Regions from separate parts of the Homo sapiens genome. Here region 2 is linked to region 1. A link means that fine-mapping ties the variant in region 1 to the expression of a gene that starts in the linked region. Tissue or cell type: whole blood. Region 1 holds a variant in brackets; the other region holds the start of a gene. All regions are shown on one strand. Distances are between the middles of the regions. Region 1 holds the start of LOC124906154 (small nucleolar RNA U13). Region 2 holds the start of STK17B (serine/threonine kinase 17b).

The links.
Region 2: STK17B starts here. The variant in region 1 is fine-mapped to the expression of STK17B in whole blood (TOPMed, PIP above 0.99).

Annotation. Positions count from the first base shown.
Region 1 is chr2:196,208,208-196,217,126 of GRCh38, forward strand. It overlaps HECW2 (HECT, C2 and WW domain containing E3 ubiquitin protein ligase 2), which reads right to left. Exons shown (of 29, transcript NM_001348768.2): 27 at 8,801-8,886; 28 at 7,658-7,770. It overlaps LOC124906154 (small nucleolar RNA U13), which reads right to left and starts at 7,115; the gene lies at 7,012-7,115. RefSeq lists an enhancer at 3,519-3,568. The variant T/C (reference allele first, on the strand shown) is at 5,522.
Region 2 is chr2:196,168,336-196,177,254 of GRCh38, forward strand. STK17B (serine/threonine kinase 17b) reads right to left here and starts at 3,243. Exons shown (of 8, transcript NM_004226.4): 1 at 2,998-3,243. It overlaps LOC101927454 (a long non-coding RNA gene), which reads left to right and starts at 3,204. Exons shown (of 2, transcript XR_923737.2): 1 at 3,204-3,296; 2 at 3,570-4,513. RefSeq lists silencers at 2,569-2,788, 3,309-3,538 and an enhancer at 7,966-8,225.

The DNA.
Region 1 (8,919 bases):
AGCACTTTGCATGTTATCTCATTTAATCTTCAAAACAACTTTGTAATATAAATGCTAATTTCTATCCCAACTTTTCAGATATGGATACAGAGATATGAAAGTCTGGATTATGATTTTGGAATTTCTTGTCTGGAGTGGTCCAAAGTTATCCCTAAAGATTTCAAATTCACTAAAAACAATATTTATGGAGTACATGTGCTAAGCACTGGGCTCACTGCTAGGAGCAAAGCCATGTTTAATTCAGATAAGGTACTTGTTCTCACAGGATTATACTCCAGAGGAGGAGACAGATAATCAACAAGTAAACCAATAACTGAACATGATGACTGAATTGGGTCAAGCCTAGTGAAGGAAGTAAGGGGTGAAAGAGTGACAGGTGCACTAAGGACAGAAGCCTGGTGGGCCTTTCTCAGGAGATCACCTCTAACCCGAGTCTTGGGGACAAGAAAGAGCCAGGCATGAAGGACCAGCAGATAAGTGTTATAGGCAGCAATTCCCTGAGCCTTGAAGCATAATTGAGTTTGGCATATTTGAGGAATACACAGAAGGAGGCTGGTAGGTGTCATGGGTTGGGGGAGAGGGTACATGTTGAGGTTGCAGGAGGAGGCAGACCAGGGCCCCACAGGAAGTCCTTGGGAAGGAGTCTGGATTTTATTCTAAGCCACCAGAGGGTGTAGGCAAGGGAGGGAGGTGACCTTGAGATGTTTGCAGATCCCAGTGGTTGTTGAGTGCAGAATGAATGAATGGTGGGATGCAGGAGAAGCAGGGGATTTAGCCAGCAGTCTACTGCAGTAGTCCAGGTGAGGGGGGATGGTGTCATGGACTAGGCTGGTGGAAAGAAATGAGCCCAAACTGGTTTTTGCTCTTGAGGCCAAGGAAAAGTGGGTAAGCATTCTTTAACTGTTGCAATGTCTGTCACTCACAAATAGACACTTTAAAATCTGACTTGTGAAATAGCTCTCAAGGACCTTTAGTAGATTTGACTTGGACTATCCTGTCCTCTGTTGTCAGCAGCAACAATGCTGATGGAATGCAAGTGGAATGATTATCTCATTCCATTAAAGTCACAAATTCTTTCAATAGCTTGACGTTTTACATTAATTACAGAAGAGTCCCTTTTTTTAATACAATCTGTTTTTATGATAAATTTACCCACCTCCCAAAGTAAAGACCAATCCAAAAGGTATATGACATTTAAGAATCTTTAATATGGTGATGTGATGGGTTAACTCTGGCATGTTTTTGTTAGTACATGCAGATTCAATGGCAGAATAAAGTGAAAATTTAAAATACAGTTATATAGAACTGAGTGAGAGGGCAGAGGGGAAAGGAGTTGAAGAGAGTCTTGGACCTGAGGTTCAACTACAGAGCAGACCACTGTATGAGAATCTCCTGTCAATTCTCTCCCACACGAAAAGCCACATCAGCTCATCAGCAGGCGGTAGGGAATTAGGAAGACCAACGAGGGACACCTCAGGGCAAATATAGAAAGGAGATGGCCCCAAAGGGTCCTTCTAGTACTCATCTCTTGTTCTGATGGTTTTTCTTTCTTTCTTTCTTTTTTTTTTTTTTTTGAGACGGAGTCTGGCTCTGTCGCCCAGGCTGGAGCGCAGTGGTGCGATCTCGGCTCACTGCAAGCTCCGCCTCCCGGGCTCCCGCCATTCTCCTGCCTCTGCCTCCCGAGTAGATGGGGCTACAGGCGCCCACCACCACGCCCGGCCAACTTTTTGTATTTTTAGTAGAGACGGGGTTTCACCATGTTAGCCAGGATGGTCTCCATCTCCTGACCTCGTGATCTGCCCACCTTGGCCTCCCAAAGTGCTGGGATTACAGGCGTGAGCCACTGTGCCCAGCCTGGTTTTTCTTTTAATTGAGGAAAGTGACATTGTATTTCAGGACTTGGTTATTTTCCGGTATACTGGCTGATAATTCACTTTGACAGTAGACAATGCTCCCTATAATGGAGGAGGGAAAACTGAATTATTGATAACATTACAGAGCAATATTTAATGACATGGAAAGATGTTCCATGTGATAAACGGAATGTTGTTTTAAAATGTGTGTGTGTGTGTATGTGTGTGTCTGTGTGCCTGTGTGTACCTGAAGAAATGAGTGAAATCACATACTCTAACATGTTAACAGAGCTTATCTTAGTAATTGACTTTTTTTTCCTTCAGAAATGGTATCTCTCTATGTTGCTCAGGTTTGACTCAAACTCCCATGCTCAAGCCTTAGCCTCCCAAGTACCTGGGACTCCAAGCATGCACCACCATGACCAGCTAGTAGTGGACATTGGGTGGACATTGGATTGATACATATGTAGGTATTTTAATATATATTTAATATATACATATATTTCTTAGCAATTTTTTGTAAAATTTTCTTTTTATAAATTAGAATAAAAAGCAGATTTTTTTTTCTTTTGAGATGGAGTCTCACTCTGTCACCCAGGCTGGAGTGCAGTGGCATGATCTTGGCTCACTGCAACCTCCACCTCCTGGGTTCAAGTGATTCTTCTGCCTCAGCCTCCCGAGTAGCTGGGATTACAGGTGCACACCACCATGCCTGGCTAATTTTTGTATTTTTTTTTTTTTAAGTAGAGATGGGGGTTTCACCATATTGGCCAGGGTGGTCTCAAACTCCTGACCTCAAGTGATCTGCCTGCCTTGGACTCCCAAAGTGCTGGGATTTCAGGTGTGAGCCACTGCACTCTGCCAAAAAGCAGAATTTTAAAAACAAAAAGTTGTTATGTTTTTAAAAAATAATTTTATCTTTTAAAGTTCTATTCCATTAGATTAACTGTCTCCATAAGACATCTATTTCATAATTAACTCTTACAATTTATTTCTTAATTTCAGTTAGCATTTCATTCATAATAATCTCCAGACACAGCCATTTTCAAAAATTAACGCTTTTCCCTTTGGCAATAACCAACACACCCCCATGACGATTGCAGCTCTCAGGTCCTCCGTCCCATCACCCAACTTGGCAAGAACCTGGGGGATGAACACAGAAACTCACACCATGGTGGGAGACAGGACTGCTCTGCAGTTTTCAGGCTGGCATCTTAGCAGCGCATTTTTTGGACTGTTTGAGAGCAATTGCCACAAAGTGAATGTACTCTCTTTTCATAAAGTCCATCAGAGCACCAGGGGTATGAAGTCTTCCACAGAAATGCAAAATACAGAGCTAACCACCGACCGCGAAGCAGAGGAAGTGCAGTCATGTGCTCAGGCTGTAGGTCTCCATGGAGACACCCTTCTGTCTACATCCTTATTTATCATCTGGGTCTCTAGTCACTTCATAACCACAAGAGGAAAAAAGAGCCATGGATTCAACTTGCACTGGCTGCAGAGACAACCATATATACTTTTATATACTCCTTGACTCATACTGTGAGCAGCGCTATCCACTGCTACCGCAAAGTGAGACTAGGAAATCTGAGAAAAGAATGAGACTCACATTTGCCTGCTTGAAAATTGAAAGGCCCTCCATCATCCTTGTCTAGAAAGACTAAGATTCTCTCCCTCATTGCTCCGGTTGCCAGGACTGCCCTCATCCTTTACAGCCCCTCCAACCCTCCAGGGCAGAAACTCCCATGCCCGACACAAGACCATGCCAGACTTCTTAGAGGATTCTTTTTTTTTCTTTTTGAGACAGAGTCTTGCTCTGTCGCCCAGGCTGGAGTGCAGCATTGCCATCTCGGCTCACTGCAACCTCTGCCTCCTGGGTTCAAGCGATTCTCCTGCCTCCCGAGTAGCTGGGACTATAGGCGTATGCCACCACGCCCAGGTAATTTTTGTATTTTTAGTAGAGACAGGGTTTCACCATGTTAGCCAGGCTGGTCTCAAACTCCTGACCTCAGGCAATCCGTCCGCCTTGGCCTCCCAAAGTGCTGGGATTACAGGTGTGAGCCACCATGCCCAGCCAGGATTCATTTTTTAAGTAAGAAGGACATCTATCCATTTTTCTCCCATGTGTGCAATGTAATTTTTTTTTTAATTTTAAGTTCAGGGGTACTTGTGCAAGTTTGTTATAGAGGTAAACCTGTGTCACTGGGGGTTTGTTTTACAGATTATTTTGTCACTCAGGTATTAAGCCTAGTACCCATTAGTTATTTTTCCTGATCCTTTCCCTCCTCTGACCCTCCACCCTCCATTAGGCCCCAGTGAGTGTTATTCCCCTCTATGTGTCCTTGTGTTCTCATCATTTAGCTCCCGCTTGTGAGAAGATGTAGTATTTGGTTTTCTGTTCCTGTGTTAGTTTGCTAAGGATAATGGCCTCCAGCTCCATCCAGGTTCCTACAAAGAACATGATCTCATTCTTTTTTATGGCTGCATAGTATTCCATGGTATATATGTACCATATTTTCTTTATCCAGTCTACCATTGATGGGCATTTAGGTTGATTCTGTGTCTTTGCTATTGTGAACAGAGCTGCAATGAAGATACACATGCATGTGTCTTATAACTGAATGATTTATATTCTCTTGGGTATATACCCAGTAGTGAGATTGCTGGGTTGAATGGTATTTCTGTTTTTAGATCTTTGAGGAGTTGCCACACTGTCTTCCACAATGGTTGAACTAATTTATACTCCCACCAATAGTGTATAAGCATTCCCTTTTCTCTGCAACCTTACCAGCATCTGTTATTTTTTTGTACCATGTCACATTTTAAATGTTAAACATCATTTCACTCATAGGAAAAAGAAATACACTGGGGCCAACTAGCTTGAGACAGACCAGCTCTTCCATTGTGCAACTTAACGCCTATCAAAAAATAGCAGAAAAATGGCTTCAGTGTATCTGTTCTGATGGTAGGAGAAATGGACTTGATAATATAAAAGAATCTCTTTAGGCCAGAACCAATTTTACAGATCTTTTTTTACACCTAAGTAATGCCCCACATTTCATTAAGGGTGATGACAATGTTGTCAATGAAGAAGTTGCTTCTCATATAACTATACTGTCATGCAATTAAGTTCTTTTAATTTTTTCCCTCCGAATGTACTTTTATTCTTTGTGGAGCCAATGTTAATAGTTAAAGTAGTACAGTGGCTTACAAAAGTCAGGATAAAAAGTTAAAAAAGAACAAAGTAAACACAGTGTTCCTAAGCCTTTCATATACATTATCTTACAATTGTCAAAAATACTCTGAACATTGTTACTCCTACCTTAGAGGGATGGATCTAGGGTTTTGCTTAGGATGATGTAACTAGTGTGTCATAGGGCTTAGATCTGTGCTCCTGCGTGTTACCTGGGTTACATAAGGTGACTGCAACTCTGAAGCAGAAAAGCCAAGTAACTCTTTCTTCTCATCAGACCCCAAAAGATGGGGCTTGTTACGGAGAGGGTATGAAAAGAGGCTGCTTGCTCAATGTGCCTAAGACCATCTTTATTTGTGCTGTTTTATAATCTGGGTAAAACTAGGAATGTAGAAGCAAACTTAGGTCATAGTGAAGACAGGGAGAAAGGACAGTGCCTGTTACCCAACTGTGTGTATGCTACAATAATGAAGAA[T/C]ACCACCATTTACAATGAGTTAGCACATGAACTTCCTGGAGCTCCAGGGGGAAGCAGAAATGCAAATCCAGCCTGACCCTCAAGATTCTTCAGCAACCCTTCGGTGTTACTTCTTGCTCAACCCAACCTAATATACCACCTCCTCCAGGCCTGTTACAAATGAGAAAATCAAGGCTCAAAGATGAAGTGTTCTCTAAGGTCCCAGAGTTAGCTGGTGGCAGAGGTGGGACTAGAAGCTAGGTCTTTTAACTCCTACCCCTGCCCTCTTTCCAATATGCAAATATCCTGCCTGATATGTATTACAGATGATGGTGACAGAAATCACAATGGCAGCGATCACTGACTGGATGCTTACTCATGGCCAGAGACAGTATTAAGTATTTTTCATGAATGATTTCACATCATCCTCAGAATTTCAAATCCACCAGATAGATGAGGAAACAGAGGCTCAGAAGGATCATGCAACTTCACCAAGACCCTGCTGCAGGTAAGTAACAGAGGTGGGACTCAGCCTAGGTCTCTCTGAAGCTAAAGCTCCAGGTCTATATCAAATTACTTGTCTCTACCCATCAGGTTTGGTGAAAATTACAGTGATTAAATATGAACAGTGGACATATCTGCTTACTGTTGCACTTTATTCCATATACTTTAGTGGCTTTACAGAAATAGATTTCAACAAAAAGCTGACCATTAATCTACCCTTTCCTTCTTCAATGCAAATTCTTAAAGAGTTTCTCAGAAGAGTAAAAAGCCTTATTCAGATAGGCTAAATCTGTTGATTTATGTGTTGAAGGGGAGAAAACTCATTATCCAAGCATAAATAAAATGAGCTAGTTCTTTAAATAATGAAATCAAATAATGAATTCCCAGATTTGGAAATCAAATATGCCAGGTAATACTTAGGTGTCTGGATGCACAGCCTGTTCAGACTGTGATGCGTGTGGGGTGGCCAAGGAGGCTCAGGCAAACCCTTGAGCAGTCATTCTTTATCGCTCTCTCCATTTGTATTTTCAGCACCCTTTTTCTCATCTGTTGATGCTGACAATACAGTTCTTAAGAACTGGCATCTTTCAATTGCTAAGAAGAAAGCTTTGATAACAGATTGCTCAGTTGCTTGTACTTAAAGAAACAGATGACATCTTGGGGTACCTAATGTCACCTTATATAGTAACAATAATATCACCTAATATCACTAATAAAATAGGTTTCTCAAAGTCATCTATACTTCAATTTAGGATAACATCTTGGGGTACCTAATATCATTTAATCTCTCTAGAGTATAGTTGTATTATTAGTAAAGTTAGAGGCAATTTCAGCTCCTTTTTACCTCAAAAATGCTACAGTATTACTACTAATTGGATAAAGGAATTCTAAAACAAATTTTCTTCCATTCCTCTTTTGTTCATATGCTCCTTTTCTGTTGCTCCAGCTCCAGTTATCTCCACTCAATCTCAAACACTTTTTGTACTAGTCCTTGCTTCTATTTTCCATATCAGATGGGTAATGTGTGGACGTTGTAATAAGGCTTGAGGGTGGCACATCTCACATATGTGCATGAACACCCAATTATCACACTGACAAATTGCAAAAGGATCAGTCTTTTGCTTTTATTAGCAGCAACAGCAAAGCATTTTTTTTCTATTCTAAGGAAATATGTAATCTTACTATGAATGAGAATACAATGCAGAGAGCATGGAATTAAGACATGTACGAGACAGGCTAAAGAGATCTAGAGCACATCCACATTATCTAATATCCTTTAGAAACTACAACGGTAATTTTTACTGAAGGGATTCTAAATAGTTATAAAGTTAAAACTCAAGCTTCTGGAAACACCTGATTAGAGCCACAATCATAAGCCACAAGCATGATAACCAACGTCGCTTTACTGATGCTAACAAATACTTTGCTTTTGTTGTGTTTTGTATTTTAAGATATGGATGTATGTATTTTAAGTGTGACCAGAGAGATCTTTTTTCCTCTTCGTTTAGAAAGGTTATCAGGGAGAAATTCATTCTAAGAGCTTTTCCGCTCTCCCAAACTTTTAATATAAAAGCAGTAATTAATCAATATATACATAAATGAATGTCTCCACCAAATGTTGTGACAGTAAAGAAATGTTATTTTATATTTTACCTGGGAAGAGCAGTGATTTTCCCCCATTTCTCCACACAGAATCTTCTTGGGCCGTTACTCCCTCGGAGTGAAGCAAATCCTTCATAGGGAATGCTGGATGTGCCTGTAACAAACTGTCAACCCAAGAAAACAGAAGGAGAAGGTGAAGCCAGAGACCAACAGCCAGGAAAGGCATCACGTCATTCACGGGCAGAGCTCCTGAGGAAGAGCAGGCAGGAAAGTTCTGAAGACAAAACTTCACAGGTGTGGAATAATCACAACACAATTCTGACACAGAGCCAGAAGATAATACTAAGAAAGAGAATACTGTGCATGATAAAGGGAAAGGGGATGTGGAGGGTTTGTAGAAAATAAAGCACCTGATGCAGCTGACCAGCTCAGAAGCTTAAACCGGGCACATTTCCCACTATAGATGAATAAAGTGGGATCAATTAACCCGAGTCAACTTAGCATCAGTCCTTGATCAATGTCGGGTGAATTTAAAAAAGAGAATGTCTGGGCCTGCAATTTTGAGGCCCAGACCCTTAATCCAAAGGAGCTAAGATCCAAAGGAGCTAAGAGTACTTGTAAGGCTCTGCCTGAGCATCCAGAGACTTCCTTGTGTCTGGTATTTCTATAGCTGCAACTGATCAGTAATTGTCCTGGATGACCATAAACACCACACGCAAAAAAAAAAAAAACACAAGTTAGTTTTCCCACTGTTCTTGAATGTCACTGTTTTCTCAAATTTGTGGAAAGTTAGATGAAAGAGAAGAAAGGACTGTCAACTAACTGCATCCCTTTTTAAAGAACTTAAAATCATTTCTTTCTGCTGCTAGGGATGCCGGCCTGCACTTTGGGTACCCTGGGTGCTTCTTGCTGAAGGGTCCAAGCTGTCCTGAAGGCAGATGTTGTTACTGGGATTCTTGGACTGGACTTGACACTTCCCTAAACTCTCATGAAATGCTTTAAGTTGGCTTAGGGAAGTTCTGAATAGCCATGGAGTCACATAACCATGCAATCAGGAGTCTGGAAATGGTGTATCTCATATTTCCAGATACACATGGTATGTGTTTATGGAGAATAGTTAGCAGTTATTAAAAACATACACTTCCAACAATAATCATATTGATACATTTAAAAGATTAAATAATGGCATCTCACCTGTAACAACCTTAGTCGTTGTTCATTGTTGAATCTTTCCACTGCAGCCCAGAACCACCGAATTACAATATGATTGTCATGGTATCCTATCAAACCAATCATAAAAGCCCATGTTACTT
Region 2 (8,919 bases), 40 kb before region 1:
ATAAAAGGTTGAAAAACGGAAATAGAGTGGGGGATTCCGGGGTGGGCAACAAATGCATGGTGCTTGTCACTCACAAGACGGAAAATTGGGTTTCTGTTGTAAAATATTGTTTACTTAATAGCACCGCTTAAGTACTATTTATTCAGTAACTATTACAATGCAAAATGGAATCTGCCTTTAAGGATTAAAGAGGAAATTACCATCTCACTGTTAAAATTTTTCAATGCTTACAGTATCACTACACCCTCTTTTGGAGTAATTGCAAAGGGTCAGGGATGAACCAAAATACAATGCATATAAATATTAAAAGAAACTAATATATATGTTTTAAATGGCACTGAAGTTTGAGGTTAAATGTTCTGGAAAAAGGATAATAAAAAACTTAATAAAGTATGCCCTGAAAATTGCAACATTACAACATATTTAAATAAAAATACATGCTTGTAACTTTATAAGAACATTTCTTAACTGAAATATTCAAAGAAATAGCCTTTGATAACAGCCCAGCATAGAATACAAACTACAGTACTTAAACATAAAATCACTGAATTTTGTCATCAATATTATGAAAAACTAAAGCAACTGACATTTGAAGTTTTCCTAAGTGGAAAGGTAGTAGATAAATGACTGCTAATGTTTCTGACAAAACAAATACCCATACAGTGCAGAAGATTTCTTTATGAAAAGAAGAATCAATCAGTATCCTTTAAAAGTAGTAAGCCTAGGAATACTATTTTTTTTTTTTTTTTTTTTTTTTTTGAGACGGAGTCTCCCTCTGTTGCCCAGGCTGGAGTGCAGTGGCGTGATCTCGGCTCACTGCAACCTCGGCCTTCCGGGTCAAGCAACTCTTCTGCCTCAGCCTCCCGAGTAGCTGGGACTACAGGCGCGCGCCACAATGCCCGGCTAATTTTTGTATTTTTAGTAGACACGGGGTTTCACCATATTGGTCTCGAACGCCTGACCTTATGATCCGCCCGCCTCGGCCTCCCAAAGTGCTGGGATTACAGGCTTGAGCCACTGCGCCCGGCCAGAATACTATTCTTAACTGCCAATCTTACATACAGAAAATGTGAATTACAATATACTATGCATGCAATTTTAAGGCAATTTAACGATTAAGTGAAAGTGTTATTAACTGAATTCCTTGACTTCTTGTGTCTCTAAAATTAAAGCAAAAATATTTTCATAAGGAAATTCTCCCTTATAATTATCAAAGAGCTTTAAAACATGTTAAAATGTTCACTTAACAAAAGTAAAACAGAGCAAGCTTAAAAATAAAATTATCTGATTAGAAACGTCAGCCATAAAAATGCTTGTATCTTCTTCAAATTTGTTACTCATATGCTAACACAGCGATTAGTCAAACCTCCAACTTCCTAAAAACGCATTCTATCTTAACCAAATCGTAATTCACTAATCAATGATCCCAAGAGAAACCGCAACCATTCTATTCACACACAAAAAAGGATGGTCTTCAATTACAGAAATTCTACTTTTAAAAAGTCTTGCCATGTAAGCAAATATATTTCACCTCAATTTTGGATCCCTACTTTAGAAAAAAAAAAAGATCTAAAATGTACAATATGTATCTCAAAAATAAAACATCTATTAATACCTCCAATTATTAAGATACTAGAAAAAGTTTAATTGAGCATCTGCTCAGAGGAGGAGGATCCGAGGCAGATGAGTTTAAAACTTTTGCACCGCTTCTATGGACCAGTTTTCTTAAAAAATACACAATCCTAGGGGTACACGGTCTAATATTTATAAAATAAGCACTTGTTGAAAATTACTTCCGAACAGTTCACCATAAAACTAAAAAACAGTGTTATCAATGAGAAAGTAGGTTTATTTTCCTTTAATAAAATTGTGCTCCTGGGTTCAAAATGCCAGGTTACATACGCTGCCACTCATTTCTACAGAGCTATGCTGTCTCCGCGCAGACATTCTCATAGACTTGAAAACGTAAAGTGGCCACACCACGTCAAACGTCCCTGGCAAGGTTCTGCTTATCATTAGCACCACAGATGTAAACATTACGTCGACAAAACAATCGGTGAATGTGATACACAGTCCTCATGTGTTTAAATATTAGTGAAATCTGATAAGTATTACGATTTTAAAAACGTATTTTCTTAATTCCAATTTCCAAATTGATGTCAGAGTGCCTCTAGTCCAGACAGAAACTAATGCCAGCTACCAGCTGCTATAAAGCCTCTTTCAACTTTGTCTCTACTTCTCCCTCGGAGGAAATTCAAATGAAACGCTTTTCCCTACAATAAAACAAAGAGCCTGGGTAAATGTCAAAAATCGTTGGCATCCAGTAGTGGTATAGTTTGAGGATGAGTCGTGCACACTAAGTGGGTCACAAGGCATCAAAGCAAAAATCAGATCGCTGAAAATCACGGAAACAGCTGTAGCCCGTCTTGATCTCTCGCTGGTTTTAAAACACTGTTCCCAAGCAGTAACTGAAAACGTCCCACAAGATGAACACGAACTTTCTCTAGACGAAAGGCAGCTGGGAGCAGGACGCGTCCACGAGTCCCGATGGGAACGCGCCCACGCCGCAGCTGGGACTCGGGAGAGGCTAGGGGGACCGCGTGGCCTTGCTGTGGAAGGGACCCGCGCGGGCCCGCCGCGAAGGGGGCCCTGCCTGGCGCGACCTGGGGAGAGCCGGGGCCGGCCGGGTGGAGGGCGCACGGGGACACACGGACACGCACAGACACAGACACGCGCCCCGGGCTGAGGAGGGTGGTGGGAGGACCGCCGGCCGCCCCCCGCGCGGAGCCCCAGGGAACCCGGACTCCAGCCGCAAAGCGGAGAGGCGCCAGCAGCAATCAGCCACCTCAGGGGCGGCGGAGTCCAAGCCCCTCTCAGCCGGACCGTACCGCCTAAACCCTCCTCGGGTCCTCCTTCCTCACGTATGAGGTCTCTGTACCGAGGCGGCTGGTTCCATCGCAGCCCCGAGCCAACCCGCCAATCCCGCAGGACACTAACCGCTCCGGCCGCCGCAGGTTCTCCCGGGACTGCCCCCTCCAGGGGGCCGCTGTCCCGCCCCACGCCGGGGGCCGCCACAGGACGAGTTCTCTAGCTCCAGCCGGGCGAGGCGCCAGGGAGCTCCGAACGTGGCAGGATCCACTTTTACTTTTCCAGACAAGGGCCGACGGTTGTGACCTGGCTTCTCGTGAAGTGACTCCTGGCGACAGCAGCGGAGAGGACTACCGAAGCTTGCAGTCGCGGTTTGAAAACTGCAGCCGCGTCTGGGGCATCGCCGTTCGCCAGATCCCTCCCCCTAGGTCGGGAGAGCCAATCGGAACGGGTGCGGAGGGTGGGTCTGTCACGTGACGGGAGGGGCGGGGCACCGGCCGGGGGCGCGTGTGCGGGGCGGGGCCCGGCGGTGAGAGGGTGCGGCGCCTGGCTGGCCCGAGGCGGGGCGGGGAGGCGCGGCGGCGTGGCGGCGCAGGTGGGGCGCACTCGGGCTGCCGCGAGGGAGGGGCGGAGGGGGCGGCGCTGCAGAGGGGGCGCGCGGGGCTGGAACTACTGCTCTGTGTACTCCTTCCCACCTTCAGAGAGGTCAGTTCGAGAGGTGTGAATATCCGGAGACCGGGGAGAAGGAAGCCGCAAAATTCGTCCCAGCTGCCTGCGACTAGTTACCAAACTTCAGTGCCTACCAAAGACCTATTTTCTGACTCTTCTTGAGAGTCTTCCTTAGGACCGGAACGTACCCTGTAAGTGGAGAACCCAGTTTGCTACAACTTGGCAGAGGTTCCTCGGAGTGTCAACATCAGTTGGGGATTTATGGAACCTAGACCCCACTGCTAACGTCCGCTGTCGCGAATGGTGTCCCTTCTGAGGCACTGACTGAAGGCAGTGTAGGGAGGGTCCCAATAGGCTGAATAGCCGATTTTGCATTTATAGTGCTAAGGAAAAAGATGAAAGCCCTCAGCAACCTACTCAAGATCTGTTATCCTTTGAAGACAGTGGAAATTTTCAAAGTTCTGTGCAAGACACAAATGTTTTACATAGATATATAATCCTAGTTTATATGTATAGGATACACACATACTCATACATATATGGGATTAGTTATGTAATCTAGGATTGCTTTCAGAGGACATTTACGATAATTGCAGAAAACCCTTCCGTGGGAAAGGATACTGGGAGTGGAGTCGTCCTCTTGCTTTCAAAAGACTTAATGTTCAGTTAGCATATAAAGGACAGGTTTTCTTGTTCTATCCCAGTAAGCCAAGCAAATTCCTGTGAAGCTAGCTGTTTCCCTTTCCTACTGCATTTTCCCCAAGATAAAGGTATAGAATGCATCACAGCCCTTTTATGAAGTCTGTTTGTTGTTACTTAGGTTAACTCCTCCTCCCAGGTTAATAATGTCTTGCCCCTAAACCTTGTCAAATGGAGAATATTGCTTCCATCTATCTAATTTCTTGTTGCTAACAATTGGGCTGACTAGAGAAGCCTAAAGTTAGGATGAAAATAAAATGCCACACACTGGAATTAACTTTTCTGGGGTATAAGAATCCGTAAGCAATGAGACTGTTCCCATCTTTTCTTTCATGAGCATAGGTGTTGCATTCCAGAGGTCTCAGCACCAGTACCAAAACTAGTAACCTCTTGGGGGTCACAGGATTACATCATTATGGTGGTTTTGGGGTTGTGTGTTTAACTTTGGACCTCCTTAATTTCAACATTTCATCAATTGCCAGCTTTTAGCAATCTTCTCACACTCACCCCATACTCCCCGTCACTAATCCAGTCCCAGATCACTTCACACCTAGACACAGACTTTTCTCTCTCTGGCACCACTGTAAGCCAGTCCTCTTGGTCACAATACCTCTGCTGTAACCAGCCAGCCTCCTAGGGATATTGTCATGTCTTGCATTTTCCTGCTTCTGCCTTAGCTCCAGCTTATCACCATCCTCCTCATCCATACCTGTTCATCAGTTTCTGACTTTAAGAAGGTTACCCTCTTCAGGAATCAGAACTCTGCTGATTCCTACTTTCTGTTCCCAGCCTGATCACCTCTGCCTTATGTTCTTTGGTGCAGGGCTGATAGTTTGTGTTTCTTTTATGACCCTAAATAGATTGTTAACCCTTGTGCCTGATGTCAGATTTGTTAACTAGGACTTACCACACTATCCCAAGGACATTCAACTACACTTACTTGGTCTCAGGCACTGTGGTTCAAGTAACAAGGAATTCCTGGTGCTGAGGAGGAGGCAGTACATCTGTGGCCTTGCAGGAAAATTCAGAAGTCAATACATTCCTCCATCCACCTCATTTACCTAAACTCATTCATCACCGTGTCAAAGATATATGTTCCTGCTCTCATTCCCTTGAGTAGGAAATCTCCAGGTGACCTGATGGTCATTCTGTGGTCATTGCTTCTGACCACACAGTTCATTAAGTTGACCATCCTTGAATGACACATTCCGACCAGGGATGGCGGTTGTTATGGGCTCAGTTGTGTTCTTTTCCAGTTCATACGTTGAAATTCTAACCCTCAGGAACTCAGAGTATGACCGTATGTGGAGATAGGGCCTTTAAAGAGGTAATTAAGGTAAAATGAGATAATATGAGTGGCCCCTGATCCAAGATGACTGGTGTCCTGATAAGAAGAAATTAGGACACATACAACACTGACTAAGGGACCACCCTGTGAGGACATAACAAGAAGGTGGCCATTTGCAAAGCAAGCAGAGAGGTTTCAGAAGAAACAAGACCTGCTGATATCTTGATCAACAGCCTCTAGCCTCCAGAACTGTCTGTTGTTTAAGCTGTCCGCTCTGTGGTATTTGTTATGGCAGTCCAAGCAAACAAATACAGTGGTCCTCCTGGATCACTCCAGGTTAGTAATCACACACTGACTGGGAGCGATGATCGTTCCCAGTCACTGCTTACCACATGTGGCCAGGGAAGGTGATCCTCTCCGGTAATGGCACGACACTCACCATATTCTGTCCAGGGAAGGGACCTTCCCCAGTCACATCAAGTCAGTCACCGCATACTGACCACATAATGATCAAGGAAAGTGATTCTCACCGATTCCATGTTTACTCCCTGTAGATGCAGAAAAGGAGGGTTTTGCACAGAGCAGAAGGCCTCAAACTCAAAACTCTTGCCACTGACACACCCTCCTTCTGAAGAATTCATGTGGAAAAGGCAAAACAAGCTCTACTACCTGTCTAGAACTGAATATACCAGAAACCTGTGGCTAGGCTAAAGGTAGCCAGACGCAGGCAAGGCCAACAGCCTCTGAAGGGGCGTGGCTCAACCCCCCACCCAACAGGGGTGCTCACTGAATGGAGACAGGCTCCTCCAAACAGATCCCCTCTCTGGAGGTAGGAATAGTGAGTGTACTCAGATGGAGATGTCGCAGTGCATTTACTCATGGTGCCTACAGCACATTGCAATTTTGAAAGCACTGAGAACCAGAGAGACTCTAAGAGACCTCACATCCCCTGACTCTCTTGAAACACTATTAGCAAAGCTAATTGGGGCTAGTTTTGTCTGATGAGAGTAATAACTCAGACTGGTACAAGTGTCTTCCTTAAAGGGTGACACAGCTTTCCTCTCCAAAACATCCATGATCAACTAGGGCCAATATGCCAATCCAACCACTCACTGCAGTTTATAGAGTATAACCTGTCCTGTAAAAGCTGTCCAAAAGAAATGCCACGCACATTGGCAAATGTTCTACTAGTCATATTTTAAAAAGTAAACACAGATAAAATTAATTTTAACAATTTATTTTATTTAACCCAATATTTCTAAAACATTGTCATTTCAACATGTAATCAACAAAAATTATTGAGACATTTTACTTCCTTTTTTAATATTGTCTTAAATCTAGTATTTTATACTTACAGCATGTCCCAATTCAGATGCCAAATTTTCATCGGAAACACTTGATCTGTATTTAGATTTCACAAAATTTACTGTTGCAAAAAGCAGATTCACATTCCTAAGTTGTTTTGAACAAACTAAAGTTTTTCACGCCAGGTGTGGTGGCTCATATCTGTAATCCTAGCACTTTGGGAGGCCAAGGCGGGCAGATGATTTGAGATCAGGAGTTCAAGACCAGCCTGGCCAACATGGTGAAACCCCGTCTCTACTAAAAATACAAAAATTAGCCAGGCATGGTGGCAGGTTCCTGTGATCCCAGCAACTCAGTAGGTTGAGGCAGGAGAATCACTTGAACGCAGGAGGCAGAGGTTGCAGTTAGCCGAGATTGTGTACCACTGCACTCCAGCTTGGGCGACAAAGCGAGACTCTGTCTCAAAAATAAATAAAGTTTTTCAATAACTAAATACAGTATCAGTTTCTTAATATAAATTTAATGACAATGAAATAAAATAGAAAATTTTGTCATGTTAGCCACATCCCAAGTGTTTCATGGCCACATGTGGCTACTAAGTTAGGCAGTGTAGGTCTGAAGGGCTAGAAACGTGCCTTCTAATTGTGTCTAAATTTCCAGTGCTAGAGACAATCAGAGCAGTCTGGAGCTAGAAAAATTCTTGCAGTTCAGTAACCCAACTCCCTTGTTTTAGAAGGGAAGAAACCTACAGTGAGAGAAGTTGAGGGACTTGCAAAAGATCACACACCTAAATTCGGTGGTACATATCTGAACAATAATTTAGGTCTCCTGACTCTTAATCCTAAGATATTATTTAAGCCTCTTCACATCAGACATACTTCAGAATAAAGTAATTTTTAAATTTATCTGAATCATCACTCCGATGATACAGGCAAGAGAAAGCAAACCTGTATCCCAACTGCATTCTCATAACCTGATAAGAGCACACCCTACAATATTTAAGGCACCCTCCTTCCACTCTGTCTTAGGGTCCATGTGGTTTCATCTGTCAGCTCTCTTACCTCAATGCATCACTGCTTCCTCTCCTTGGAGCCACCTGGCCGAACATCGCTGCCGCCCGCCCACAGAGCATCCGGCCACATTTTTCTGTCTGCAGTTTTCCTCTCCCAGGTGTCTACCACACGTTATTTAAGGTTGTGCTTCAGAGAATCCTTTATATTTGCAAACCAAAATATTCAGTAGAAACTACAGTAAAGTTGTAGAAGAGCTGCTATGCTCCAGCCACAAACACACCAGGCTCTAAAGTTCTACCTCGTGAGAAGCTGTGAGAGAGAAAGAGAAGATATATGTGTGGTTAAGTGTGTGACATCAGGCAGCCCTGCCTTCAAGTCCCAGTTCTGCCCATTCCTTGTTGTGTGATTTTGGGCGATCCTCAGTTTTCTCATCTGTGAAATGGGGATAATAATAATAGCTACCTCCATGAGATTGAAATGGGATAATGCATACTAAGAACAGTGCCTAACAAGAATAAACCCTTGGTTCTGTTCCTACAAGCTATTATTATTTACCAGTGCTTTGCCAGCTCCCCATGTGCACTACTGCGCCCTGTGACTAGCAAGATGCTCAAGACATTGTGGGTTCTATATAAATATTTGTCAAATGGCTTTATAAGATACTTTCGATTTTCCTCACATCTTATGGTTGATGCTAGTAGGGATCATTGGGAGAAAAATGTCATTGGAAAGGAAAGGGGAGAGGGAGGTGACTGCTTTTCCTTTCAGTATCTATCTGGTGGAGACACCCAAGTTCGGAATGAAGCTCTAAGGGTCAACAAATGGTGGAGTCCAGGGGGCCGTGTGAGATAAAGAAATTAGTCACTAGTGTTTAAAGGAAGTAGATATCAAGTGGTGCAAAGAAATAAATACAGGGTATAAATATAGGGTGCTGTCTATTTGATTTGAGTAGATAACGCCTACTAGCTCTCCCTAATAAATCTCTTCCTTTTTCACTTTGCTAAGAAACTTCCTCTGCCAACTGCATATACCATGAATGACAACCTGCTATCACATTCTCCAGGGTACATGGCAGGT